7 separate regions of the Homo sapiens genome follow, and regions 1, 2, 3, 4, 5 and 6 are each linked to region 7. Evidence: fine-mapped expression QTL. A gene starts in region 7. Each other region holds a variant in brackets. All regions are shown on one strand. Distances are between the middles of the regions. Region 1 overlaps IGFBP7 (insulin like growth factor binding protein 7). Region 2 overlaps IGFBP7 (insulin like growth factor binding protein 7). Region 3 overlaps POLR2B (RNA polymerase II subunit B). Region 4 overlaps IGFBP7-AS1 (IGFBP7 antisense RNA 1). Region 5 overlaps IGFBP7 (insulin like growth factor binding protein 7). Region 6 holds the start of NOA1 (nitric oxide associated 1). Region 7 holds the start of IGFBP7 (insulin like growth factor binding protein 7).

Region 1 (4,065 bases), 59 kb before region 7:
GATGTCAAAGATGCTTTGACATTTATGAAGTTCTGAAGTCTCACTGTCTGGGTCTGGAGCTCTCATTCTCTGCAAATCAGTTCAATGCATTTCCTCACCTACCTAAACACGATGTATGTGACTCATAACATGGTTCACTTCCTCAGGGATTAAAAAAATAGAGCTTATAAAGGTATCACCCTTTACCCAGTTAGCCAATTTTTTTTTCATCTGAAAGAGCTGTGTAGAAGATATTAGGAGAAGTCATGTTTGAAAGCTAAATATACTTGAATTAAGCCTGGGAAATGGTCAAAAGTCAAATTACCCCCAATAATCATTTCTGTCCTCCAATATCATATTGTACTATATATTTTTTGCTTCGTTGCTTTCTCATTTGCCCATCATCTCTTCCATTTTTACCAATTCACTCTTCTATGTCATTTCTACCCAAACTCACTGTCTGCTCCCAGCAGTCCTGCTCACCCACCATTACATGTTCATTACCCCTTCCAGCACCTTTGCTTATGCTGATGCCCTTACCTACTTGGAATATCTTCCCTCCTCTTATTTCTTATCACACTTTATTTGACATTCTAAGACTGAAGTTTCATTTCTCTTTGACATTTTTTGCGGCCTGACAGCTTCAGGCTCCCCCTTATTTCTTCTCTAAAATCCTGTTGGTTTCGGTAAGTTCCACAGAGTGTAGTGCATCACTGTTTTCTAATGCTTTCCTTAGCTGGCCTAATTGAGGATGCCAGCATCCTGTCGGAATCAGAACAGAACCAGGAACTACGGAATCAAAAGATCTTCATGTTCATTGGAAGGAGACAGAGCTCAGGCTGTGTGAAGTGGGTATAGGGCAGCAGTAACTTCAGAACAACATAACATGATTAGCCAAACAGAAGTGAAAAGATAGCCACTGTCTTGAAAATGCACCAGTGTACACATGGCCAAAAGCGTACACCTCACCAAAGTGGTGTTATAACTATCTTATTTATCAGCTGGCAGATTATTAATCATGATTTTCTTTAATCTTTCACTTGACTTTCTCTTGCCATAAGCAGTGTTTCTTGGCTACTAACCACTCACCAACCAATTAGTATATGACCAGGAGATGCAAATTAATTTGAATATACATCACTTGAAGCAAATCCCACCGAGATGGGTAGGTCTGCTGGAAGAAAATGATTATCAATTATCCTCACACCAAAATCATGCTGGGTTATACTATTCACATTATGGTTCTCACTGAACATTTATTTTATTTTTATTTAAGTTTTTTTTTTTTTTTTTGAGACAGAGTTTCGCTCTTTCGCTCAGGCAGGAGTGAAGTTGTGCAATCTCGGCTCACTGCAACCTCTGCCCTGTGGGTTCAAGCGATTCTCCTGCCTCATCCTCCTGAGTAGCTGGGATTACAGGCAGCCATCACCATGCCCGGCTGATTTTTGTATTTTTAGTAGAGATGGGGTTTCACCATGTTGGCCAGGCTGGTCTCGAACTCCTGACCTCAGGTGATCCACCTGCCTCAGCCTCCCAAAGAGCTAGGATTAAAGGCATAAGCCACTGCACCTGGCTTTTCAAAAGTTTTTATAGACAGAGTCTTGCTCTGTCACTCAGGCAGGAGTGCAATGGTGCTACGATCATAGCTCACTGCAGACTCCAAACTCCTAGTCTCATGGGTCCTTCTGCCTCAGCCTCCCAAGGAGCTAGGACTACAGGCAAGTGCAACCATGCCCGGCTAATTAAAAAAGAATTTTTTTTTTTTTTTTGTAGAGACAGGGTCTTGCTTTGTTGCCCAGGCTGGTCTCGAACCCTTGGCTTCAAGTGATCCTCCCTCCTCGGCCTCTCAAAGTGCTGGGGTTACAGGCATGAGCCACTGTTCATGGCCTCTTGCTGAGTACATGCTAACATGGCTAAGACATTTGAGTATGGGGACTTCTCCGAGTTATGATAGATTTGCAAACAACACTCACCTTGACTCTTGATGCTGGGTCCTGAAAATAGTGTGTGCATTAATACCAAATAAGGGGAAAATCAGGGTTTAAGAAGGACCTCAGATACCACATATGGAGATAGAGAGTTCAGACAACTTGGCAAAAATCCCTAGATTGAGATGAGATTCTGATAACACATTAAAGGGAACAGGAGCACACAAAAGTACAAAACGGGAAAAGAATAGTAGGAAGGCACTATGGCCAAGATGGGGAAGG[G/T]GATGAAACAAGTGGAAGCTTCCTGATATTAAATAAGGGGAAGCAGTAACTGTATGGCTAATTAAAGAGCAGAGCCATCTGCCAAGGCAAGTCATTTAGGGAACTTCCAGAGGCGGGATGATGTAGCAGCTGAACCCTGGTATGGGAATCTAGCACACGGTCTCAGGGGTACTGGCTGAGGACAGCAGGGGAGGAGAAGAAAGTACAACAGCTTAAGCAGCATAGGCCAGATTTAATCTCAGGCTTTTAGTTTAAGGCAAATTCATCTAGTTATGGAAGCTACTGTTAGTCATTTCCACTTTAGTGTGAATGAAGAACCAATAGTTTATAATAATGGGACCCTGCCAAACACTGTTTAGGGCAAAAGTGTGTAAGAACTGCTTCCTCTTCTCTAAATATAATCTGTTGGGGTGGTGTTGGGGAGGCTTAGCGCATTAAGAGTAAGAACAAAATGCTGGGAGGTAATAGACTATAGTGACTTTGGAGCGTGGACTTGGAATCAGGAATTCTGCTCTACCACTCCTGAGTTATGCAACATTGCACAAGTTATTTCACTTCCCCTGCTTTATTCATCTGTGAAATGGAATGATAGTATCCCAGTCATTAGACCATCAAAAGGATCAAACAAGATACAGCCATTAGCACAGTACCTGGCATGGGGTAAACATTCAGTAAGTATGAGCTGTTGCTTTTCATTTCAGAAATTAGACTTTCATCAAGGAAGGTGAAAGACAGGGACCTGCCTGAGGAGAGGCAGGAAAACGCTGGCCTGCCTTGAATAGTGAGCATGCGGGCCAGCTCGGGAAGAGGATTCGTGTGTGGTGTAGGGCACAGCAGAAAGCAGATGAGGTGGGGCCTCACCCTCCAATGTGTCTCTGAAAGTGGGAGTGTCATGATTCAAGTGGCATTTCCCAAGATGATTTTGGAGGTCTCCGCATCAGGATGGGACATGGCGGGGATTAAGGCTCTAACTCAAGGTCGCAGCAATGAGAAGACAGAGAAAAGGGGAAGACTTGGGGGATTATTCAGGAAGAACTAACACTACCCAGTAACTGACTGGATGTAGGAAAGAGAGGCATGATTTAAAGGCTGTGAGCCTCAAAGGTTCCAGGAGGCTGCCGCACCATGAACAGAAGCAGGGGTGTCAGTCTGAGGAAGGTGCTGGATTGAAGAAGGGGAAAGGGTGGACTTGGGTTTAAATTTGCTGAATTTCAGGTATCACCTGGGCCATGAGGAGGCACTGAACCCCAGTGGGGAGACCAGAAGTGCCAAGGCAAGCACTGTCTAGCTGACATTTTAGCCCTGGGAAGGCTATGTGGGGTCCTTTGGGTGGAAGGAAGACAGATTTGGCACTCCCTCTCACTAGTTTCTCCAGAGGGAGTTCCATCAGCTCACTGCTGACCACCTGGCCCGTCCCCACCCCACCCCAGGTAAAGCAGATAAGTGAATAGCACGGCCTTGCTTAGCTTCCAGGCACGTATTTGCAGGGCCAGTCCATCTAAGAGCAGACCATTCAATACAATGCTGCCCTGGTGACCGCGTGCCCAGGTCTTGTGAGTTGAGTTCCTGGCTGATTGCTAGTTACCTCTGGATTAATAAGACACCTCGTTTTGGGTCCAATCTTTGATGCTGAGAATCTTCGTAGGGAGCATGAAGTCTGTTTTTCTCAAGTGGACATAGTACTCAAATATCTCACTACGATGACTGTCAATCTTGTGATATCTCACAATTATCACTGTAATTTTGAATTGACCACAGAACATGCACAGAAAGTTGCTTCTTGCAATGTGTTGGTTGCTTGCAAACAAATCTCTTATTTGATGATGCTTTCTTTTCTATCTTTTTTTTTTTTTTTGAAATGAAGTCTTACTCTGTC
Region 2 (4,065 bases), 66 kb before region 7:
TGAGAGAGGCCAGAATGATGCTTCTCCATTCCCCCAATTAGGGAACACACCCCCCACCTTCTGTATCATGGCACCCTCTGGAGAAGTTCCCTACTCAGAGTCAACACAAACCATGTGTATCCTTTTTGCTATGAAAGTGGTATGACTCTCTGGTCCTGGGTTAGCTAACTATGGCCTGTGGGCCAAATCTGGCCTGCCATCTGTTTTTGCATGGCTTATGAGCTAAGAATGGTGTTTGGATTTTTGTTTTTTTAAATTAAGAAAAATTTTATTTTTTTGAGACAGAACCTTACTCTGTTGCTCAGGCTGGAGTGCAGTGGCATGATCTTGGCTCACGGCAACCTCCGCCTCCCGGGTTCAAGCTCAAGCAATTCCCATGACTCAGTCTCCCAAGTAGCTAGGACTACAAGTGCATGCCCAGCTAATTTTTGTGTTTTCAGTAGAAACAGCATTTTGCCACGTTGGCCAGGCTGGTCTCGAACCCCTGAGCTCAAGCGATCCCCCCACCTTGGCCTCCCAAAGTGTTGGGATTACAGGCGTGAGCCACTATGCCCGGCCTGCAGTTTCAAATGGTTGAAAAAAAATTAAAAGATGGATATTTCATGACGTGTGAAAATTGTAAAGGAAATGTCCATAAAATAAAGTTCTGTTGGAACACAGCCACACTTATTTGTTTCCTGTGGTCTCTGGCTGCTAGAGCAGTTGTGGCTGAGACTGTATGGCTAAAATAGTCACTGTCACTGGCCTTTTATAAAGAAATTTGCTGATTCCTGCTCTAATCAACTGAGGGAGACTGATGCCTAAATAAGACATTATGGGAAAGTCTCAGGACTTCAATCCTTTACACATTTTCCAGAGCTGATGCAAGTAACCCCCTGGGTGATTTCTGGTTTGGCTCTGAAACACAAAACTGTGGAAGCCAACAGATACCGAGAGAGCGGGTGCTTGCTGACTGCGCCTGTCCCCTGACGGCCTGGCTTCCCGGCATCTGCAATAGAGATGTGAACACCAACTTTTTAGTTACTGGTAATTAGTATGTCACTTCTGCTAATTCTGAATGCCAGGGTTCAATCACCAGGGGCCTTCAGAAAGACTTGGGACCGTCCGCAGAGGAGGGTCATGGAGCTGGCAGTCTGGGATCCTCATGTGGGGCAGTGTGAGACTCCAGAACCTAACCTGGCTCTTATTCCATGCTTAGCATGGTTTCTTGAATGAATAAATTAATGATCCCTTCTGAATTTTAAATCTCTGCTGACTTGGGTCTCCTATCCTAGCAAAGTACAAACTGCAGGGTCATCTTGCATCAGAGTCCTGGGAAAGGGACAACCTCCCCTTTAGGACTGGAAAGTTTTCTGGCATAATCAGCATTCAAAGGACATAAAGTCTCCCCTTCTGCAACAGGCTATTTCCAGCACAATATTAATTTCTTGAAACAGAAAGGAAATGACCCCAGTGTGCAAGATTTTCCCACTCATCTAAAGCATTAGAAGCTGATTTTTTTTAATCTCATGGGATATTTTTATTTTTGTAGGAATGTGCAAAACAATCAAAAGTTTGGAAAGCTCTAAATACATTTCATGCTTCCTTCCCTCCAAACCATAGGTCTGAATAGGAAGCATATATCCTGGCCAGGGGGCTTGGCTCTTCTGCTGCAAACATGAATGTGGTGAGCACAGTGGTGCAGTATTTACGTTTCTGGCTCTGTCTCAGACATTTCCTAGTCTGGATGCAGCAATACAGAACCCTGCAAAGGGCTGGGCCTCACCCTATCCCGGGCTTCCTCTAGGGCTATGGGACCCCAAGGGTTTGGACACCACAGAGCCGGATCTGGCTGGGCTTTGAACTGCCTTCGCCCACCTCTCTGATGGCCCTCATGCTGCTCTGTTCTCCTTCCCACACACAGACTTGGCAGGAGGACTTCAAAGCTCAGGGGATCTCAAAGGATTGTTCTGAGAAGAGCATACCAGTTTTCAGAGATTTGAGGGGGAGCTCGGGAACAAAGCTGCTTCTCTCATATCCAAACCACACAAGGAATGCAAGACAATTTTATTGTGAGGATCTGA[G/C]GGCCTCAGCCCTGCCAAAACCTACTTACTTTAACCTGTGTCCATCTCCCTATTGCCAATACAGGTAGCAGGGTCATCGGTCTTGGGCAGGGGGCAGATTCTGGAGTGCTAATGGGCAAGTTCCAGCCTGATTTTCTGCCAGAGATCTTGAAGACATGCTATGGATTTTTCCCATGGGATTTTAAAACAGATGTTCTTAGTTTTAGTATAGTCCAATTTATCAAGTTTTCTTTTCTGTGGTTAGTGCTTTTCGTGTCCTGTTTAAGAAAATTTTTGCCTAGCCCAAGGCTATGAAGATCTCCTGTTTTCTTCTACAAGCTTTATGGTTTTACTTTTCACATTTAAGTTTTTGCTCCATCTTGAATTAATTTTTGTGTGTGCTATGAGGCAGAGGTCAAGTTTCATTTTTCCTCCCCTAAAAGGACATCCAATTGCTTCAGCACCATTTGTTGAAAAGACCATCTTTTTCCTAATGAATCATAATAATGCCTTTGTGGAAATCTGTAAGACCCACTGTATATGTGTGCGTCTATTTCTGGACTCTCTGTTCTTTTCCACTGGTCTATGTGTCTATCTTTGCACCAATAACTATGGCATAATTTAGAAATTAATTGTACTAAAGTTGAAGCACTAAATAGAGGGCAGATCTAATATATCTGTTCCCCCCCAATCATCTTACTATTCCAAGAAGCAGAACACTCTAGGACAAGTAAGAATTCTTTTTTTATTTTTATTTTTGTAGAGACAGAGTCTTGCTATGTTGACTAGGCTGGTCTCAAACTCGTGGGCTCAAGTAATCCTCTTACTTCAGCCTCCCAAAGTACTGGGATTATGGGTGTTAGCAACAGTGCCCAGCCATGAATTCTTTAAAAATACCTGAACCCAGGAATACTTTGAATGACAGCCATCGTCAGGGGATTCAATATTAGGACAAATCATATCATGGGTTCCTATTTCTCTCTCCCAATGCTTGGAATACCTTAGGTAAACAGGCTGAGTCAACATTTGGATTATTCTAAGAATGTAAATGATTTTGTCAATCCTGCCACCAGGCTATTTCTAGAATTCTACAAGACTTCCATACCACAAAAATCTATAATATCCACTGACTCCTGCTGGGGTGATGTAGTGGAAGGGCAGAGGAGGGGCTGTTAGGACCAGTTTGCTGCACAACATTTACAAAAACCTTTGACTATTTCAAATATCCTTGAACAAATGCTGGGTTTACTAACACAATGAAAAGTTTAACAAACAATACGTAAACTGGAAAGTGCTAAGAAATAAGGCTACAGAACGGCCTTTTGGTTTTGAGATGCAGTCTCTTGCAAAGGAAAGTCACATCAATAAATTATTAGTGTAATATTCAAGGGACCAAACAGACCTCTTAGAGTACATGGAGGCGGGTTGGCCTCCACGTGACTTCCTGTGTTGGAAGAATCTGTAGGGATTCAACATTCTTTCCAGTACTTTCTTCAGAGCTGATACCCAGTAGGATACCTATTTACTAAGCTCTGATTGGTTCTTTACCACTTACCTGGTCTGGAAATTCCCCCAGAATATGCAGAGGGAATGGAAAAACTCCTTTTTTTTTTTTTTAGATGGAGTTTTGCACTTGTTGCCCAGGGTGCAATGGTGTGATCTCGGCTCACTGCAACCTCTGCCTCGTGGGTTCAAGCGATCCTCCTGCCTCAGCCTCCCAAGTAGCTGGAATTACAGGTGCTCGCCACCATGCCTGGCTAATTTTTGTATTTTTAGTAGAGATGGGGTTTCACCATGTTGGCCAGGCTGGTCTTGAACCCCTGACCTCAGGTGATCTGCCCACCTCAGTCTCCCAAAGTGCTGGGATTACAGGTGTGAGCCACTGCACGCGACCAAAATCTCTTGATAAAAGCAAATTACAGAAGTTTTAGAGAAAGGTAAATGAAGATACATGGTGAGAAAGAATAAGCAAGCGACTTAATGGTGACCCACAGGGACACCAAGAGGACAAGTCTTGTATAGA
Region 3 (4,065 bases), 110 kb before region 7:
ACAGATCGTGATCTTTGTGAGTTAAATGAATGCCCTTTGGATCCTGGTGGCTATTTCATTATTAATGGATCAGAAAAGGTATAGTAACATTATTTTAAAAAATTACAAAATGGTAGTTAAAATTTAGTTTAAAGTTGAAATGAAAAAAAAAAAAAAAAGAAAGAAAGATTTTCCTGCAGGATAACCTGGCACTGACAGTTGACTTGTTTAGGGTATGACAGCTAAACTTATATAAACCAAAGCTTTATTTAGCTGTATATAACATGCACTGGGAATTTGGTCAGTTTTGGAGTTTATGTATTTCTATGAAGCATTTATGCAAAATGGAGTTTGTAAAGTTGAAGAATTAAATATTTCAGTGAGCCTATATGGTCAGATTAAATTAAGATGCAGATTTTACTCTCTTTTCTCTTCAGTGATGTTTTGGATTTTATGGCTGTAACTTTCTTATTGTCCAAATAGGTTCTGATTGCCCAAGAGAAAATGGCAACAAACACAGTTTATGTGTTTGCCAAAAAGGATTCTAAATATGCCTACACAGGAGAGTGTAGATCATGTCTTGAGAATTCTTCCCGACCCACCAGTACTATATGGGTTAGCATGCTGGCAAGAGGAGGACAGGTATGGACTGGATATGATGCTATTTGGGTTTATTCCTTTGTGCTTTGTTTTAAAATTTACTAGACTGCCTTCTTTGTCCATAGAAGCTTTTCTGGAGCATATTGTTGTTATATATCGTATTGTTTACCTATCGCTGTGTAACAAATTACTCCTCTAGCAACATTTATCATCTCACGGCTTCTGTGAGTCAGGAATCTGGGTGTAGCTTAGCTGGGTCTTTTGGCCAAGCAACTCTCACAAGGCTGCAATCAGATGTTTCCCTGGGCTGCCGTAATCTCAAGAGTCATTCCCATGGTTGTCTGCAGGATTTAGTTCTTCATTGGCTGTTGGACTGAGTCCCAGGTCTTTGCTCGCTGTTGGCTGGAAGCCTTTCTTTGTTCCTTGCCATGTGGGCCTCTGCGTATAGCAGCTGACAGCAGCATAGCAGCTTGCTTCTTCAGAGAGAGTAAGCAAAAAGAGCCATAGAGAGTACGAGCAAGGTGGAAATCAGTCTTTTATAACTTAAAAGTGGTAGCAACATCCTGTCATTTTTGCCATGTTCTTTTTGTTGGTTGCAAGTCAGTATGTCCAGCTCACACTAAAGAGGGTATTACAAGGGCAATAGTAGGAGGCAGGAATCATTGGGTACCAGCTTAGAAGCTGCAGACCACTGGTATAGTTATAAGCATAGGTTGCTTATAATAATGGAACCTGGTAGTAGCTAGCAGTTCTTAAATATTTGCTGTATGCCAATTCTGTTACTCAGATTGCTTGATTTAATTTTTACAGCTATCTTGGAAAACCTCTATTTCAGTTCATGTGTGTGTGTGTGTGTGTGTGTGTGTGTGTGTATGTATATGTGTGTGTGTGTGTGTATATATATATATATATTTTTTTTTTTTTTTTTTTTTGAGACGGAGTCTTGCCCTGTCACCAGGCTGCAGTGCAGTGGCATGATCTCGGCTCAGTGCAAGCTCCGCCTCCTGGGTTCACGCCATTCTCCTGCCTCAGCCTCCCGAGTAGCTGGGACTACAGGCGCCCGCCACCGCGCCCGGCTAATTTTTTTTTTGTATTTTTAGTAGAGATGGGGTTTCACCGTGTTAGCCAGGATGGTCTCGATCTCCTGACCTCGTGATCCGCCCGCCTCGGCCTCCAAAAGTGCTGGGATTACAGGCGTGAGCCACTGTGCCCGGCCTTCAATTTTATTTAATAATTATGCATGTGTGGGATGCAATGTGATATTTTGATACGTGTATACAATGTGTAATGATCAAATTAGGGTACTTAGCATACCTGTCACCTCAAGAATGTTTTTCATAATATTTTATTTGTAAGATAAGCATTCTTCCCATGTGCACAACATTGCTGGGTATTGTTAAGAGATCATGAAAACACACAATCCTTATTGAGAAGGTGGCCAGGTGTGGTGGCTCATGCCTGTAATCCCAGCACTTTGGGAGGCTGAGGTGGGTGGATTGCTTGAGCCCGGGATGTGAGACCAGCCTGGGCAACATGGCAAAACACTTTCTCTAGCAAAACAACAACAACAAAAACCCAAAAATTAGCTGGATGTGGTGGCAGGCACCTGTAGTCCCGGTTACTCGGGAAGCTGAGGTGGGAAGATGGCTTGAGTGCTGAGGTTGCAGTGAGCCCAGATTGGCGCCACTGCACACCAGCGTGGGTGACAGAGCCAGAGCCTGTTCCAAAAAGAAAAAAAGAGAAAAAAAAGAATGGTTTTATTGGGAATACAAGCTTTAGACATTAAATGGTAGTAACACAGTGCAGAGGCCAAATGACACCTATTACATATAACAGTTTTATAGAAATTTGGAGGAGAATGAGGTTACTAGTATGGTGTGGTCCATGCAAA[G/GT]TTTTTTTTTTTTTTTCTGAGACAGGGTCTCATTCTGTTGCCTAGGCTGGAGCGTAGTGGCGCGATCTGGGCTCACTGCAACCACCACCTCCTGGCCCAAGCGATTCTCGTACTTCAGCCTCCGAAGTAGTTAGATTATAGGCATGCTCCACCACACCTGGCTAATTTTTGTATTTTTTGTAGAGACAGGGTTTCACTATGTTGCCTAGGCTGGTCTCGAACTCCTGAGCTCAAGTGACCTGCCTGCCTTGGCCTTCCAAAGTGCTGGCATGAGCCACCGCCCCTGACCAGTTCATGAAACTTAATAGAGAAGATGGGACTTGACTTACACTTTGAAAGATGGTATGGATTTATATAAGCAGAGAGAAACTGGAAGGACATTCTTATTAGAGGAGAGTGGGGATGAGTATTTGGAGAATCACTGGAAGATAGCTCTAATTGAGCTGGATGAAGTATGTTGAATAGTGAGTGACAAGTAGATGATCAGGGTGGATCTGGATTAGTGGATCTTAACTAAAGGTTCACCTCAATAACCTAAGACTCTTCCAAGTACAAAAGGGGCCCATTTCCAAATCTGCTGACTCAATAGTGAGAATGGGAGTGGAATGGGGCCCAGGTACAAGTATTTGAAAGAGGTCCCCAGGTGATTGTGATGTGCATTCTTTGTCGAGAGGCATCGGCCTGGATGACAGAGGGCAAAGACATAAACAGTATATTAGGGAGACTATCATGGCAACTCTGAACAAAATGAATTAATTAGAGACAGAGAAAGGAAAATGATCTGGATTTGATGATAGGTTTGATAAGATAAAAGGATGAGTCAATTAAGATACTATGATTTGTATTCTGAGGTTCCAGGAGAGCGGTGAACTTCGAGTAACTGATTTAGGAGAGAACATAATAAGTTCAGTTTTAGATAAGATTTTTGGGGAGTGCATGTTGTAGACATTTTTTTTCTTTAAATTTTTTTTTTTTTTTTGGAGACTAAGTCTGGAGTGGCTCTATCCCAGCTCACTGCAACATCTGCCTCCTGGGTTCAAGTGATTCTCCTGCCTCAGCCTCCTGAGTAGCTGGGATTACAGGCGTGTGCCACCATGCCCAGCTAATTTTGTATATTTAGTAGAGACAGGGTTTCACCATGTTAGCCAGGCTGATCTCGAACTCCCAACCTCTGGTGATCCACCCGCCTTGGCCTCCCAGAGTGCTGGGATTACAGGCATGTGAGCCACTGTGCCCGGCCTGTGAGCCACCGTGCCCAGCCTAAAATTTTAAAAATATTTATAGAGATGAGGTCCCACTATGTTGCCCAGGTTGGTCTTGAAATGCTGGGCTCAAGCAATCCTCCCGCCTTGGCCTCCCAAAGTGCCGGGATTACAGGCATGAGCCACTGTGCCCAGCTGTATTATTTTTTAATGTTCTGCTTGTTCTGGGATAAGATCCATGATGAAACAAATAATAGACTAAATGGAATAATTGATGTCCAGGTGGAAACAACCAATTGGCATTTGGAGATATGGGGGCTGAGGGTACAAGAAAAAGATCAAGATAAACATTTGGGTGTCATATATGAAAAGTTGTTACTGAACAAGTCCATG
Region 4 (4,065 bases), 46 kb after region 7:
TCCTGTTCTCCTTGGCTGCTGAGCCAAGTGAAAGCCTTCTTCTTTGGTAATAGTCATTGTCTCAGTGATTGGCATTCTGCGTGGTGAACAGCAGGACCTAGACTGACCTTTGGCATTGGGGTAACAGTGGCTGATGCTACTGGTGGAGGAACCACACCTTGAGAAGCACTGATCTAGGCACCTTCCACTCCTCTCAGTCTATAGATGGGAAAATGGAAACTCGGAGAGGTGAGGGGCTGGCTCGCGGTGACTCTGGGAGAAAGCAGAGGAGCTGGGGCTAGAATCACCTCTCCTGGCTGCTTCCCTGCCCTCCCCTTCTCCCCTCTTCTCTTTCCTCTCCCTGCCCGCCCCTTCCCTTGCCTCCTCCTCTCTCCCCCATTTTCCTCCCCTCCTCTCTCTCTTTCCCTTTCCTTCCTTCTGTAAAGGAACTGACCCCTGGTCTGGTTAATGTCAAGGTTACAGAGTAGAGTCAGGAAAGAACCCAAACCTCTTGACTTCCAGGTTGGTGCTTACCCCACGTCTCAAGTTTCCTGCTCCTGGAGAAGCAAGACACCAGGAGATTATGGGGTTTCCCTCTCAGTAGCTGGATCTTTCTGAAAGTGTTTTTCTTTGAAGGTGAGAACAAAGACAGCCTGCATTATTAGGCAGGATGTCCCTGAGACACATGACAGAGGGAGGCTGTCAGCAGTAACAAAGAGGCTCTCTGGTTTGGGAAAAAAAGGTGCTTGTAGTTGTTGTGGGAGACGAAAAAGCGTTTCTTTGACTTTCTTATATTTAGTACCTGGGGGCCTTCAAATTAAACTAACAAAGACAGATTAACAGCAGGAAAAGAAAAGCATACAGTTTTATTCGTATTTTACGTGCATGGGAGTTCACAGAAAAGAAGTGAAACTCAAAGAAGTGGTTAGTTAGGCTCCAGGGCTAATATCGCATTTTAACAAAAGAAAGGGGGTTTAGGCTTCAGAGGATGAGACAGGGTAGGGAAGTGACTGAAAAATATATGGGAGAACTAATGGAAGATAAAACCTTATTTTAGTGGGGTCTGTTTTTGCAGACTCCTCTTGGTGTCAACTCTCTGTCTCTGGTGATGACTGCTTTTGCTCCCCGGTATTGGGGTGAAGGGTGGGACACTTTCACAAAGGGAAATTTACACCCTGCTTTTAGGCAGACAAGAGGAGGGCAGAGAACTCTTCCTGCATCTGTTGATTCTCAATTGCCTTCAGCTCAAAATAATCCTTATGCCAAAGTGGCACGTTTTGAAGCGGCATATTCTGGATCTCTTCATTGGATGGAGGATTCACAGACTTGCCAACATCAAGGGTGGTGAAATGTAGATGCATGCTAAAGCAGTGTCCCAGTGTCACAGGGTGAGGGAATCAGGGCCATGCTCATCCAGCCCAGGGGAAGCTAAGCTTAGATTAAAGGGACTTATTTAAGAGCCTAGTAAAATTAAATTTCAAATGATTTTTATTAAAAAACTTACCTTAATTGTGTATTATATTTTAGAGTCTAGTATTTACTGATGTTGCTTAATGAATAACTCTATTTTGGCTTTTAGAAAATATCTGTGTTATCCATACCTATGTAAAGGATAGTTATTTTTACCACTAGATAATTAGTAAGTGACTATTATCTACCTTATCTTATCCCAATTACAGGCAACATAACTAGGAAGAAATAAATGGCTTCGGGCATGCTGGACTTGCGAACACAAATTTATGAAGTGACAGCTAGTGTCATGATGCTCCTGCCTCAAGATGACCTCCCAACCCAGAGCCCGGCTGCTTGGGTGAAACATTTTCCCCTCCCTGAATTGTCTTGCAAAATGTAAACACACATTGTCACTCCGAAGGAGTTAGTTTATCAGATTTCTTCCCTTGGTGATAGGAGGGATCTAGGGCAGGCTGAGCAGGGAGGTGAGGTGGAGGATGACAGAAGCACAGACAGGGATGCCTGGGGCTTGTGACTCACCCACAGGAGTACAGCAAGTGCATGTGAGACGCTTCTCAGGATTTATATGTTAGCTTTTCTCCCCAATTTTGGAAGGCAAGGAATTGTAGTCAGCAATCGGCCAGGTGAGGGGAGTATTTTTGGTGCAAGGGACTGTCCAAGGGATACTGACTGCAGTGTCCTCCCATCTTCACTGTTTTCTTAAAGGGACTCACTCCTTCCCTGATTTTCTGGTGTCCTCCAGGTTCATCAGCAGTTATTTGGATGGTCTTCTGATGTGCAAGCCCAGCGTGGTAGGATGTGGTAGAAAGGGC[G/A]TATCACACACTGATGCTGCATCAGCTCAGTTTAACCTCAGTTCTACTGCCATGTGACCCGAGGGCCAGTTATAAACCCTCTTAGAGCTTTGGTTTCCTTAGATGCAAAAGGGGACAAATTTATATATATGTACACACACATATATACACACATATATATGCACACACATATATATATATATAAAAAATATATTAGTGCAGATTAAGGGGGTAACATGTAAAGTATCTGGTACAATAAAATCTAGGCCATTGCAGTGTAGGTTTTTGGAAGCTGATGCTGAGATGGAGTTTGGGTTGCAAGACATTTATTAGGGATCAGCTCCTGCGCTTAGAAACGGGGGGAAGCAAGAACTGGGCAGAGGGACAGGTTGAGCTGTAATGTGGGCCCCGGAGAGCCTTGGCCAACCCGAGGAGCCCTGCAGTGAGTATTGTCCATCTGCATTGTCCCATGAGGGGCTGAGATGGCCAGCCCTTAGAGCCTTGCTTCACTCAGTCACCAGACCTGGCTCCCTGAGAAGGAGGTGTTCTAGGGTGAGGCAACTCCAGCTGCAGAGGCAGCCCCTGAGCTGCTGTCAGAGGCTGCCTGCTCTGGCCACCTCCTGCAGCTGCACAGCAAGTGCTTCCTGAAGGATGGTCTGGGTGGCTCATTTTCATGCCTACCACATAGGCATCCAACAGACATGTCTCCTCCCTGCTGCCAGAACTATCCTCTTTTTTTTTTAACCTTTTCTCCACCTTCTTTCTGTTCTCCATCTGTCCTCTTCTCTTGCACCTGCTTCTTCCATCCATCCTCTCCACAGTCCTGGGAGCTTGTGGCTCCTCTGCAGGGGCCCTAGAAGTGGTGCGTGCCTTTGCTACTCTCTCTGCCAGTCCCACTGCAGCAGGAAGCATCCGACACATTTTTGTCTCACGCAGATAATGTACAAGTTACCCATGACTTCTCTTTTACTTTGGTAGAGGGAAGAAAAGAACCAGGCTTTATTCTGCAGAATAAAACAACACAGATGCTGGTGAATGCACTGTCAGCCCATGCCTGCCAGCTGGGACCAACAATAGGAGAGGAGGCACTGGCTGCATCGCTAACAGATTTCCAAGAACGCTATGGGCAGCCAAAAAAGCCATTTGGGCTTGTTTCTTTTTCCTCTGTTGCCTTTCTGAGAGATAAAGAGGCTGATGGATCATAAATGGAGATATGAATTTGATAACATTTGGAAAGAGGTTAATGGAAACCAACGTACAAACTACAGAATAGGAGAACACGGCAGATTTCTAAATGCCAATAGCATTTAGAAGCTGCTCTTAAAGAAAATTTGAAGGTGAGCAGGCGGTGGGCAGAGGATCTGAAGCAGCTGCAAGGGCCTCACATGAGTTTGGAAATGTCTTCCTAATGTGATGGATCCTGGCATCATTCCACGCAGACGCCAGGTAGGTGTCCCTGTCCACAGCTCTCTGAGCTCCTGGGATAATTTCAAAACAGCAGAGAGTGAGGGCATGTGCATCATTTGAGCACATCATAGAGGGCACCACTGATTCGCTGCACTGGAAGTTTGTTTGCTCTATGTGAAATCTCTTATGTCTGGCCTAGAAGCCTGCATCAAGGAACTGGGAAACACCACCGGCTCCCTCTGTGAGTGGCAACCATGAAATCCACCCTCCAGTGGCCTCTTGTGGACTGTGGACTAACTTCCTTCAGGGGTCCCAGGAAGTCCTAGGGAAGTGGAAACTCCCTTCCATATCCCACTTCAAGACTCAGCCATTGTGCAGAAGAGGCCAATAGCAAGACCCCAATTTAGTTCCATGC
Region 5 (4,065 bases), 23 kb before region 7:
TGCACCTGGCCTAGATCCTTTTTTCTTTTTCTTTAAAGTGCAGTATTGTTTTCACTAGAATATCAATAGGTATTTGTCATTCTAGATCCATATTCTCAGGTATACTGTCTGGTCTTCCAAAATGTAGTTCTACATTTTTCTTGTATTTCAGTGAAGTTTTTTGGAGTTATAATTTTTAGTGTTGGCTTGCTTTCTTGCTTTGGTTTCCTTCTTCAGTGACTCCTGTTATCCGTATGCTAGATCTGCTCTGCATATCTTCAGTGGTTGCTGCTTTTGATCATTCCTCCTTTCTTTTTAATTTAATAATTTTCCTCCTTTTAACCTCCTAGTCTTTTAAGGGATTCTCTATTGTTCTTATTCGCTATTGTGTTTCTTTTGGTTTCATTTCTGAAATAACAACTGAGATCTTCACCACATTTTCGAGTTATTCTAATTTTGGCTTGTTACTCTTTATTTGTATTATTTAAAAAATGTCTTTTAGCTCATGTTATTCAGATAGTCAGTTGTATGTAGTTTTCACCTGTTTGCAGACGTGCTTTCATTGCAGGTAGGGATGTTATTCCCTTTCTCTCTCTCACTCTTCTCTTATATAAAATTTCTTTCTAGTATGGGGTTTGGCCTTAATCTTTCTCTGTGCTTTTTTAAAATGTAAAATTGGTTTTCCACAGCCTTACAAGGAGACATTGTCCAAAATACCTTTTTGCAACTCCTCAGAACTCCATTTTGTGTTGTTTTCATTTAGTGTTAAAAACAGTAACTTGCTTTCTGTGATTTTCTGGGTTTGTTTCCCTCCTTCACTTTTATTTGGTCTTTTGTTTCATTCATCTCTATTGTTTCTGTCCTGCTCAATTTTGATTCTATTCCTAGTAGTTTTTCTTTGGTGAAGGGCCCTGTCCTGGAAGGGAGCTGTATTAGTCCATTTTCACACTGCTGTGAAGACATACCTGAGACTGGGTAATTTATAAAGTAAAGAGGTTTAATGGACTCACAGTTTCACATGGCTTGGGAGGCCTCACAATCATGGTGGAAGGCAAAGGAGGAGCAAAGGTACATCTTACATGGTGTCAGGCAAGAGAGCATGCAGAGGGGAACTGCCCTTTATAAAACCATCAGATCTCGTGAGACTTACTCACTGTCATGAGAACAGCATGGGAAAAACCTGCCTCCATGATTCAATGACCTTCCACCAGGTCTCTCCCATGACACTTGGAGATTATGGAGTTACAATTCAATGTGAGATTTGGGTGGGAACACAGCCAAACCATATCAGGAGCCCCGGCTGGGGGTTTTGAGAGTTCACGGGACCCAGGCTACTCAAGCCCCTTCCACCCTTTGGGTCCCTTGCACTCACCCACTAATGGACTTTCCAGTGAAAACCTGTTGGCTATGTTGAGATTTACCTATTATTGGATCTGTCATCACCTCATTACTGCCCTCTGTGTCTTTCCACCTAGCTGCTGACAGCCTGCAGGCTTGGTGGCATAGGTGGCTTGTTCCAACCCACTTATATTTTGGCATTTGTGGGGATAGCTTGTCACCTTTTTGTGGTAAATGTTTTCCATGGGGCTTGGGTTTTGGTATCTAGAGGATTTACGTTTTTGTTTTCTAATTTTAAAAAATTGTAGTAAAATACACATACAAATTTTACCATCTTATTTTTTATTTTTATTTTTGATTCCGAGTTTCGCTCTTGTTGCCCAGGCTGGAGTGTAGTGGCGCGATCTCAGCTCACTGCAACCTCCGCCTCCCAAGTTCAAGCGATTCTCCTGCCTCAGCCTTCTGAGCAGCTGGGATTACAGGCACATACCACCACGCTCAGCTAATTTTTGTATTTTTAGGAGAGACTGGGTTTCACCATGTTGGCCAAGCTGGTCTCGAACTCCTGACCTCAGGTGATCCACCTGTCTCGGCCTCCCAAAGTGCTGGGACCACAGGCGTGAGCCACTGCTCCTGATCTAGTGGCTCAGTTATTATGAGGAGATTGAATACAGGAGACCGACACACTGTTGCTGCTTCAGCCCCATTTAACGGTAA[C/A]CCCCTGGAAACTGGAGTCTGTGTTCTGTGCCCCACAGCACCAGGATGGCACCTGACACATAGAAAACACTCACACATTTAAGTGATAAATGAGTCATTCTTAATTCCTCTGTCTTTTGGCAGGGTGATAGGATGCTTTCTTGTACTCATTAAAGTGATTGATGGATAACATAAAAGTTGCCATTGGTACCTGGACTAATACCTTTGCAGGTCAATATGCAGCATGAGCTTCTAGATGGGAAAACACTGCCAACCCTTGAGTACCCAACTAATGAAGGGCAGGAGAGGAACAGACTATCTCAAAAGGATGCCAATTTTAAAATACTTTATATTTTGCTCTGTATAAATTTGTTGTAGCAGATTCCTTACTAACTGTTTGGTTCTGGCTAATGTTATAACACAGGAGTCCCTGGGCACTACTTGCTGATAGTGATTTGAAGGGGAGGAGTGGACCAGAGGTATATAGGAAAAAAGTAAATAACTGACACAGCTATACGCAAGGTTATATCAGTTAACTGACTGGGCATATTTGAGAGTTGTTACTACAATAGTTGGTAAAGTCAGAGGGAATACAATCTTGGATTCATAAAGGCCTAACAGTTACAAAGGCTTTCAAATCTGTGACTTCGTTTATTTCCATAACCCTAACCCTAATCCTTTAATACAGGTCCTGCTTGCTCCATTTCACAGGTGAGACAACAGAGGGACAAAGAGATTAAGCAATGTGCCAATGATCACTGTTAGTCAATGTATAGTCAGGATTCAGATGCTTGGCCAGGTGTGGTGGCTTATGCCTGTAATCCCAACATTTTGGGAGGCTGAGGCAGGAGGATTCAGACTCTTTTCTTCTAAGTTTAGTACTTTATGTTTATTTTGATACAGGGCTTTGCTTTGTCACCCAGGCTGGAGTGCAGTGGCACAATCACGGCTCACTGCAGCCTCAAATTCCTAGGTTCAAGTGATCCTCCTACCTCAGCCTCCTGAGTAGCTGGGACTACAGATATGCACTACCACACCTGGCTAATCTTTTGTTTTGTTTTGTTTTGTGGAGACAGGGTCTCACTATGTTGCCCAGACTGGTCTTGAACTCCTAGTCTCAAGTGATCTTCCTGCCTCAGCCTCCCAAAGTATCGGGATTAGAGGTGTGAGCCACCATGCCCAGGCAGTTTAGTGCTTTTTACAGCACTATTGCTGTATCTGAAAAGCATGGTGATGTAAACTGCCACAAATATAATGTTAAAATAAGGTAGGCTATAAATTGTAAGTATATAAAAATATTGAGGTTCCGACCAGTTTGGGCAAGAACAGCCCTCATTTTCTCCATATAATACCATCCAATCATTCCTACCACTCTCAGTTTCTGCTTCTACCCTTCATCCCATCTCTAGTTATCCCTCCAGAAAAAGAGGGAAGAATGAAGGTAAAAGTACCATAGTATGACATTTGAGGGCTGTTTCTGAAGCATTAGCCACTACTACTAATGATAAAAGCAACGGCCAGATTGAGACCCTATTGTGTGGCAAGCACTATGCTTAGAACCTCATATGAAGTTAATACTCTCACCAACCCTTTGGGTAAGCAATATTGTCCCCACTTTAAAGATGACAAAACTGAGGTTAAGAGGAGCAACTTGCTGGCTGGGCACGGTGGCTCACGTCTGTAATCCCAGCATTTTGGGAGGTCAAGGCAGGCGGATCATCTGGAGGTCAGGAGTTCGAGACCAGCCTGGCCAACGTGCTGAAACCCCATCTCTACCAAAAAAATACAAAAATTAGCTGGGTGTGGTGTTGGGCACCTGTAATCCTAGCTACTTGGGAGGCTGAAGCAGGAGAATCGCTCAAACCTGGGAGGCAGAGGTGGCAGCGAGTGGAGATCACACCACTGCATTCCAGCCTGAGCAACAGAGTGAGACTCTGTCTCAAAAAAATAAAAAAAAAAAAAAAGAGAGGCAACTTGTCATTTAATAATCACACATTTAGTAAGTGGGGGAGTGGGGATTTGAACCCCACCCTCTCCAAAACATTAATCTCC
Region 6 (4,065 bases), 130 kb before region 7:
GATTCTCCCCGTCCTGTGGCTCGTCCTTGACGGGGCGCTGTGGCCCTTGGTGGCCAGGGGCCAGCAGGAGCCCGGCGCGGGCACAGTCCTCCCACAGTCGCTCCCGCAGCCTCTGCCGGTAGCCAGGAGCATCCTGGGGCAGGAGGTCCACTTTGTTTCCCAGCACGATCAGCTGCTTGGGGCCCACCAGCGCGGGCAAGTCGGGCAGCAGGGCGTCGGGCAGGTCCAGCAGGTCCACCATGTAGAGCACCAGGGAGGGGCCGGGCCGCCGCAACGCGGCGCTCACCAGCTCCAGGTACTGCTCGCGGCTCACCTGCAGGCGTAGAGCGCGCCGGTGGTGCGACAGCAGCCAGCAGCGCTGGCACACGGTCCGTGCCAGCCCGCCGTCTGCCTCCGCCGTGCGGAGGAACTTCTCTCGGGGCAGGTAGCCGGGCACTCCGGCGTCCTGGCAGTGCAGCTCTGCCCCACAGCCCGAGCAGTTCACGCCGCTGGGCGGCAATGCCGGGTCCGGGTGCCCCACGACCGGGTGCTCCCGGGACCTGGCCCGTAGGTTTTGCTGTCGCCGCTCCTCCCGCCGCTGCTGCCTCTGTCGCTCCTCCTCCTCCTGCTGTTGCTGGAGCTCCTGCAGCTGCTTTTCGCGGGTGGGTTGCGGCTCCGGATCCAGGATGTACTCCGGGAACAGAAAACGCTCCTGCATGTCACCACCTTCTCCAAAGCCCTCCGTGTCCACGGGGTCATAAGGAAGCTCGCGTCCCAGACTCGATGAGTGCTGGAAGGAGGAGGCGGCAGCGCACCTCCTCTCCAGGAGCGGCTCCCGGAGGCCATGGCGCGCTGCCGTGGGAGCGGATCCACGAAGGAAAAGGCTCAGCAGCCTGAACGGTAGGCGAGCGGGCAGCATGAGGAAGTAGCTCCAAAGGGGCGGAGCCACCAGCGCGCACGCGCACTAGGGTCCGAGGCGCGCATTTGACCCGAGACGAAAGCGCGTGGGTACTTGGGAGCTGTCCTGGTTGGTTTTGCGTCTAATCCCGTCAGTTCTCGCGATTTAAGCTCTGAGACTGAGAACCTACTTAAAGCTATGGCAAAGGCACTGGAGGATTGAGCTAGGTGGGCAGAAAAGAGCAGTGAGTGTTTTGGGTTTTTTCACTTTCAGGCTTAACGCCTCACTGCTAGCACAAGCCGCCCTTAATAAATCACACTTAAAAAGGAGCTTCCGGGGTCGGGCGCGGTGGCTCACGCCTGTAATCCCAGCAATTTGGGAGGCCGAGGCGGGCGGATCATGAGGTCAGGAGATCGAGACCATCCTGGCTTACACGGTGAAACCCCCATCTCTGCTAAAAATACAAAAAATTAGCCAGGCGTGGTGGCGGGCGCCTGTAGTCCCAGCTACTCGGGAGGCTGAGGCAGGAGAATGGCTTGAACGCGGGAGGCGGAGGTTGCAGTGAGCCGAGATCGCGCCACTGCACTCCAGCCTGGGCGACAGAGCGAGCCTGTCTCAAAAAAACAAAACAAAACAAAAACAGAAAGGAGCTTCCGGCCGGGCGCGTGGCTCACGCCTGTAATCCCAGCACTTTGGGAGGCCGAGGCGGGTGGATCACCTGAGGTCAGCAGTTCGAGACCAGCCTGGCCAACGTGGTGAAACCCCGTCTCTACTAAAAATACAAAAATTACCCGGGCGTGGTGACCCTTGCCTGTAATCCCAGCTATTTGGGAGGCCGAGGCAGGAGAATCGCTTGAACCCGGGAGACGGAGGTTGCAGTGAGCCGAGATCGCTCCACTGCACTCCAGCCTGGGCGACAGAGCGAGACTCCATTTCAAAAAATAATAAATAAATAAAAATAAAAAATAGCTTCGTGTTTTGGTC[C/T]TTATAAAGGCAAATAAATTGAGCATCCCAATGTTGCGGATTCACAGGACGAACACTTTTTAATAATAAGTATACCTGGTTTTGTTTTCAGGTGTCGTTATTTGTGCAACAACATTGAAAAACAAGCAGAAATAAAACATTGACGGAACGGATACGACCGCAGATTGCGGGAGCTGTCCTCTCAATCAGCCCGGCAGCGGCGGCCCACAATTTACGCGTGTGCAACCCTAACCCCGGCCCAAGCTTGACCTACAATTTGCGCAGGCGCAGATCCTAACTTTGGCGTCCCTGTGGGCGGCCTTTGGTGTGAGACGCGTGGTATTCTGGGAACGTCGGAGACGGAAGTTACTTCGTCTTTAGCTCCTGGCGCTGCTGGCTTCTGGGCGGTTTTTGTCTTTTGATTTCAAGAGTTAGGAGCTCGAGAACCGTTTGGCAATATGTACGACGCGGATGAGGGTAGGTGAACGCTCAAAACACACGCCGTGGCGGTCCATTTAAGCAGGAAAGCGTTGGGAACTGATTGGATTGAGGATTTGGGGCCTTCCCATGCGCCGGCTGCACAGTCCCCAGCCTTGTTCCCACACTTACCAGGCCGGGAACGAAACTGGGGTAGGGAGAGGCGGAGGGTGCAGGGAACATAGTGTTAATGTTCCAGGTTACGTTCACTGCTGCTCTCTGCACTTTCTCGTTCCGTTAGATCTGATCCTCGTTTCCTGTGGTGAAGTAGCGTGCAGAATCGTAAGATAAATTACGTTTTGAATTTGAAGCAAAGGGCACCCTTTAAAAATTTTCCTTAAAGCCACAGTCGACTTAACGAATAGCTCAATTGTTGAGTGTCAGCCTGTGTCAGGCAGTGTGGAAGGTCCTGGAAATATTCCGGGACAGAGAATATCGGGGGGTGGGGGTGGCGGGGGGGACTCGGTTTAGTCTGACATTTCTTCATACTGTTTGTAAGTCAAAGTAAATTGTCTTAAAGGATGACTTTTAACTTCCTCTTCTCACAATGTCACAGTTCTCAGATGATATGTATTCTGCTGCACTGGGCCAATGTATAATACCTGTTTGTTTGCGCATATGGAATTCTTAGTAGTGGCCGAGCGCGGTGGCTCCCGTCAGCACTTTGGGAGGCCGAGATGTGCAGATCGCTTGAGACCAACCTGACAAACATGGGGAAATCCTGTATCTACTAAAAATACAAAAATTAGCCTAGTGTGATGGCGTGCGCCTGTAATCCCAGCTACTCGGGAGGCTGAGGCCGGACGATCGCTTGAGCCCAGGAGGCGGAGTTTGCAGTGAGCTGAGATCGCACCACTACACCACAGCCTGAGTGACAGAGTTAGACTGTCTCAAAAAAAAAAAAAAAAAATTCTTAGTTGAGTCTAGTGTATTTTCGTAGCCGCCTTTTCCATTCTCCATATCTGCTAATTCAAACCTTATTTTCTTATAGCTCTCAATTCCTTGGCCACCCCCTACATCTCCTCTCTCTATTCCCTCAGGTACTTCTGATAAATCAGATGGAAAAAATTGAAGCAAAAGCTTAATTTTTTTTTTTTTTTTTTAAGAGATGGGGTCTGGCCATGTTGCCCAGGCTGGTCTCAAACTCCTGAGGTCAAACCATCTGCCTGTCTCGGCCTCCCAAAGTGCTGGGATTACAAGCATGAGCCAATGTGCCCAGCCAAAAGCTTAAACTTTTAAAGCTGTTTAAACTTCTGTCTCATTTATATCTTGTGTTGTAGAAATTTATTAGCATCATTATATTCCTTGTTCTTTTTTAACTACTATCTCAGTAGAAGAAAAATTCGAAAAAAAAGATTTTTAAAGCATAATTTTTGGCTGGGTAATATATTCTCATAGCTCACAAGCCAGAAAATTTAAAAATGTTAAAGTGGGGTGGCTGGTGCAGTGGCTCACGCCTGTTATCCCAGCATTTTGGGAGTCTGAGGCGGGTGGATTACTTGAGCTCAGGAGTTCGAGAGCAGCCTGGGCAACATGGGAGACCCCTCTCTATAAGAAATAGAAAAATTAGCTGGGCGTGGTCTTGCTCACCTATAGTCCCAGCTACTTGTGGGGCTGAGGCTGGAGGATCGCTTGAGCCTGGGAAGTTGACACTGCTATGAGCTGAGAACAAAGTGAGACCTTGTCTCAAAAAAAACAAGTTAAAGTGTCACGTCTCCTTCTTACCCACCATCTGCCCAGTTTGAACT
Region 7 (4,065 bases):
ATGATACTATAAATAGTTACTAGTGAGTTACACAATTTAAGGCTTTCAATAGTGAACTCTGAAATTGATGACATACAACCTATTAGTTTGTGGACTTCTGGGAAAAGCTCTAAAGAAAGAATTTGGAAATTCTGGAGAAAGTCTGAACTGTGTTAAAGAAGCAACAGCTTCTGTAACCTCAGAACTGCCTCCTCTCCCTTTTCTACCTTGGCTAAGATCAGGAGCTGCCAACATTGAATGTCTGACTTTCCCTTGAAAATACTGCCAATGGAAAATGTTATTTCAGGCATTAGAGTTAAAATTTCTATGTGTGTGTGTATGTGCGTGTATTTGCAAGTCCAGACTTTATTTTCTTCTTTCTTTCTTTTTTTTTTGAGATGGGGTCTCTGTCTGTCACCCAGGCTGGAGTGCTGTCATGTGATCTCGGCTCACTGCAACCTCCGCCTCCCAGATTCAAGCGATTCTCCTGCCTCAGCCTCCTGAGTAGCTGTGATTACAGGCATGCACCACCATGCCCAGCTAATGTATATATATATATTTTTTATTAGAGATGGGGTTTCACCGTGTTGGTCAGGCTGATCTCGAACTCCTGACCTCGTGATCTGCCCATCTTGGCCTCCCAAAGTGCTGGGATTACAGACGTGAGCCAACCCACCCGGCCTATTTCCTTATTTCATTTACAGCAAGCTTGGACTTGTTTGGAATAAAATAAACAATCAAACATAATCTCAAAGACATTTCTGCTGAACAGTGTATCCTGGGGACAAATTATGCAAAACAATACAAATCAAAGAAATAGGAAGGAAAAACAAAATGGTCAGAAGGTTGACAACAAAGTGCATCACAAAAACAGTCTTCAAAGAGTTTGTATTTTATTTTTGCCCACAAATAATTAGCTAGTTAGATTACTGTTTGAGAACCTATAATTTTTAGAAAGTGGACTATTTTCTTCAATACTAAGAAATCAGGGCTGTGCACGGTGGTTTATGCCTGTAATCCCAGCAGGCCGGGATTACTTGAGCTCAGGAGTTCGAGACCAGCCTAGGCAACATAGTGAAACTCCGTCGCTATAAAACAAAACAAAACAAAACAAAAAACCAAAAATTGGCCAGGCGTGGTGGCACAGGCTTATAGTCCCAGCTACTTGGGAGGCTGAGGCAGGAGGATCGCTTGAGGCAGAGGTTGCAGTGGGCCAAGATCGTGCCACTGCCCTCCACCCTGGGCGACAGAGCAAGATCCTATCTTTTAAAAAAAAAAGTCTGTCTGGAAGTCCTTACTTTATATTTAATTGTCAAACTCCTTTCCCCCATCTCTTGACTTCACCTCTCTCTACATCCCCAAGCCAAGAATGATGAGAAATGGACAGATGTTAGCACGAGTTGGGTGCGCTTTGGGCATGGGGAAGTCTGAGGTCTCGGAAAATCTTTTCTACATATACACCCGGCCCTCACTTTCTGGACGCACGCAGCAAACTCTCAAAATAAAACCACCAAAAAGGAGAAGGGGGGGCGTCGCCCACCGCTCCTGGCATTCCGCGGCTGCCAACTCTTTCCCTCCCATCTGGCTCCTGGGATGCCCGCGGGGGAATCGCAGTGAGCAGCGCGGGGCGAGGCCGCCGCGGACGCCCCGTCGGATGTGCCCTTCGCTGGGCCGAGCGGCGCAGGGTTGGAGAGGGAAGCGCTCGTGCCCACCTTGCTCGCAGGTGCCCTTGCTGACCTGGGTGATGGCCTTCTCCCCGCGGCTCTCGGCCCTCTGGCTGGCGGCGCGCAGCTGGCAGCCGCTCGGGTAGGTGGTGCCGTCGCTGCCGCACACCGGGTAGCGGCTCTTGCACACGCACACGCCGCTTACACCCGGACCGCCGGCTGCTGCCCCGGCTTTACCCTTCCGCCTCTTGCGGCTCTTCACGCACTCCATGCCCGGCGCGCAGTACCCCCTGCCGGCGCCGCCACCCCCGCACGGCTCGCCCTCGCCGCGGGCGCACATAGGGCAGCAGCCGCACGCGTCGCGGGTCTCGCCCAGCAGGCAGCCCAGCGGGGGCAGGGGCGGGCAGGAGGCCGGCTCGCAGGGGCCGCAGGTGTCCGAAGAGGAGGAAGAGGAGAGGGGCAGGAGCAGGAGCAGCAGCCCAGCGGCGCCGAGGAGCAGGGCGCGCAGCGACGGCCGCTCCATGGCGGGGTGCGGTGGCAGCGGCAAGGGCGCGAGTGAGCCGTGTCGGGCCGGCCGGCGCCTTAAACCCGCCGCCCCGCCCGGCCTGTCCGCGGGAACCACACCCCGGGGCGGTGAGAGCACGGGGGCCCCGCCCGTGCCGCCCTCCCGGCCCCGCGGGGCCTGCGCGCGCGCTCCTGCTGGCGTCGGGGGGTGAGCGGGCACCCGGCGTGACCGGCCCATGGGCGCTCGGTCTCACGCCCGCTTCGCAGAGCTCACCCCGCCAGCTCCTGCTCGGTCCCCAGTCCCCTGCCCCGAGCCCTCAGGGATCGCACCGCAGTGCGAGCGGCTCTTCCACCCTCTGGTTTCTCCCCGTTTCCGGTCAATATATTTAAACTTCTTAACAACCACGGCTTCGAGACGATCCAGGGTTTCATCTATTAAATCCTCCGTGGGCCTGAGACACCTGAGTGCTCATTACTCTGTGGTTTGGGAAGCTCTCTTAAGAACAAGCTGTTAAAAACCCCCACTTGTGGACTGTGTCCCCGCTGGCCACAGGCCTGCTGTGGTCTTGGGTGTCAAGCACTAAAAGGACAAACCGTTGCCAACCACTTCCCTTTCTGGAACCTCTTAACTGCCTGCACCTCCCTCCCCGCTTTGTCTCCCAGTGGCATTCAACAAGACTCTGTGCTTTTTTTGTGCTGAGCCGTTTTCAGTGAGTACTGGAATCCGTGTGAGAGCTGTGCCCTTGTTTTGAGTTCTTGCTGAACTGCTCGCCCTCCAGCAAGCCTCTCGGGAGAACAGAGCGCAGCTGAGAGGAGCAGGGGTCCCAGCTCCTTCCTCGTTGGAGCTGCCACGGAGGCACCTAAAGCGCCCCCAGTCTTCACCAGCATTCCAGGAGGTTTTTGATATAAACGGTGGACTCTTCCTCAGTCTTTCTGCGAAGTGCTCTGCAAACTCAACTTGAAAGCCTCTCTTCCCAGGAACACTGGCCTCTCCAATGCAGACATGGAAGTTGCTTTCACTTTTTAACTGAATGTGTAACATTGCAGCGTGCATTATTCTGCATGTCACATTGTGGTTCTTTTGTGTTCTTTTTTCTTAGCATAAATCCAGGGATTTACAGGGTTGCTGACTGAAAGCCAGCAGTTCAGTTCATAATCCCATTAGCAGTGTAAAGAACTCATTCTCAACAGACTCTTACAAGGATAATTATTGCAAATTTTTTGAAAATTAAATGACCACAAAATCGGGGGGTGGAGAGTGGGGAAACATCCTCCAATCCAGAAAAACCTAGCACTGCTTTTTGGCCTCTCCTTAGTGTATTATAGACAAGTGGAGCATTTTTTTTCCCCTCAAAGGTCATATGTTGACCTGACAGTTGTTTAAAAAACAATGAAAAATCTTTACAGCAGAGTTTCCCTAAATATTTTTGTCTTTGTTCCATCCTAAGAGATGCAGTTTACATGACCCATTTGTTTTCTTGAAAAGGAAACAAATGCAGAGTGCACTCTATTTCCTATTGTATTTAATTTCTTTCTTTCTTTCTTTTCTTTTCTTTCTTTTTCTTTTTTTTATTTTTTTGAGATGAAGTCTCCCTGTGTCGCCTAGTCTGGAGTGCAGTGGTGAGATTTTGGCTCACTGCAACCTCTGCCTCCCAGCTTCAAACAATCCTTCTGCCTCAGCCTCCCGAGTAGCTGGTATTACAGGCATGCACCAACATGCCCGGCTAATTTTTGTATTTTTACTAGAGACAGGGTTTCACCATGTTGCCCAGGCTGGTCTCAAACTCCTGACCTCAAGTGATCCACCTGCCTCGGCCTCCGAAAGTGTTGGGATTACAGGTGTGAGCCACTATGCCCGGCCCTGATTTCCTTTTTATTAATTCACTGGTCAAGAGCCACTAAATTGGTTCCATGATCT

What was found. PIP is the estimated chance that this variant, and not a neighbour inherited with it, causes the effect.
Region 1: its variant is fine-mapped to the expression of IGFBP7 in whole blood (TOPMed, PIP above 0.99). The same link has a PIP of 0.9 or more in blood mononuclear cells, monocytes and monocytes after Pam3CSK4.
Region 2: its variant is fine-mapped to the expression of IGFBP7 in whole blood (TOPMed, PIP 0.99).
Region 3: its variant is fine-mapped to the expression of IGFBP7 in whole blood (INTERVAL, PIP 0.95).
Region 4: its variant is fine-mapped to the expression of IGFBP7 in whole blood (TOPMed, PIP above 0.99).
Region 5: its variant is fine-mapped to the expression of IGFBP7 in caudate (GTEx, PIP above 0.99).
Region 6: its variant is fine-mapped to the expression of IGFBP7 in whole blood (TOPMed, PIP above 0.99).

Annotation. Positions count from the first base shown.
Region 1 is chr4:57,048,991-57,053,055 of GRCh38, forward strand. All of the region lies in intron 1 of IGFBP7 (insulin like growth factor binding protein 7), which reads right to left. Among named protein-coding and RNA genes, the nearest start is that of IGFBP7-AS1, 59 kb to the right of the region's middle. The variant G/T (reference allele first, on the strand shown) is at 2,190.
Region 2 is chr4:57,042,090-57,046,154 of GRCh38, forward strand. The region is part of intron 1 of IGFBP7 (insulin like growth factor binding protein 7); the gene reads right to left. Among named protein-coding and RNA genes, the nearest start is that of POLR2B, 65 kb to the left of the region's middle. The variant G/C (reference allele first, on the strand shown) is at 2,064.
Region 3 is chr4:56,994,789-56,998,853 of GRCh38, forward strand. It overlaps POLR2B (RNA polymerase II subunit B), which reads left to right. Exons shown (of 25, transcript NM_000938.3): 5 at 1-78; 6 at 463-621. Among named protein-coding and RNA genes, the nearest start is that of POLR2B, 18 kb to the left of the region's middle. The variant G/GT (reference allele first, on the strand shown) is at 2,471.
Region 4 is chr4:57,154,514-57,158,578 of GRCh38, forward strand. All of the region lies in intron 1 of IGFBP7-AS1 (IGFBP7 antisense RNA 1), which reads left to right. Among named protein-coding and RNA genes, the nearest start is that of IGFBP7, 46 kb to the left of the region's middle. RefSeq lists enhancers at 2,278-2,787, 2,788-3,296. The variant G/A (reference allele first, on the strand shown) is at 2,265.
Region 5 is chr4:57,085,078-57,089,142 of GRCh38, forward strand. All of the region lies in intron 1 of IGFBP7 (insulin like growth factor binding protein 7), which reads right to left. Among named protein-coding and RNA genes, the nearest start is that of IGFBP7-AS1, 23 kb to the right of the region's middle. The variant C/A (reference allele first, on the strand shown) is at 2,035.
Region 6 is chr4:56,976,688-56,980,752 of GRCh38, forward strand. NOA1 (nitric oxide associated 1) reads right to left here and starts at 919. Exons shown (of 7, transcript NM_032313.4): 1 at 1-919. The coding sequence starts at 898. It overlaps POLR2B (RNA polymerase II subunit B), which reads left to right and starts at 2,209. Exons shown (of 25, transcript NM_000938.3): 1 at 2,209-2,317. The coding sequence starts at 2,299. RefSeq lists enhancers at 152-211, 592-661, 2,483-2,582 and a silencer at 412-491. The variant C/T (reference allele first, on the strand shown) is at 1,862.
Region 7 is chr4:57,108,186-57,112,250 of GRCh38, forward strand. IGFBP7 (insulin like growth factor binding protein 7) reads right to left here and starts at 2,200. Exons shown (of 5, transcript NM_001553.3): 1 at 1,692-2,200. The coding sequence starts at 2,166. IGFBP7-AS1 (IGFBP7 antisense RNA 1) reads left to right here and starts at 1,577. Exons shown (of 5, transcript NR_034081.1): 1 at 1,577-1,785. RefSeq lists a silencer at 2,269-2,338.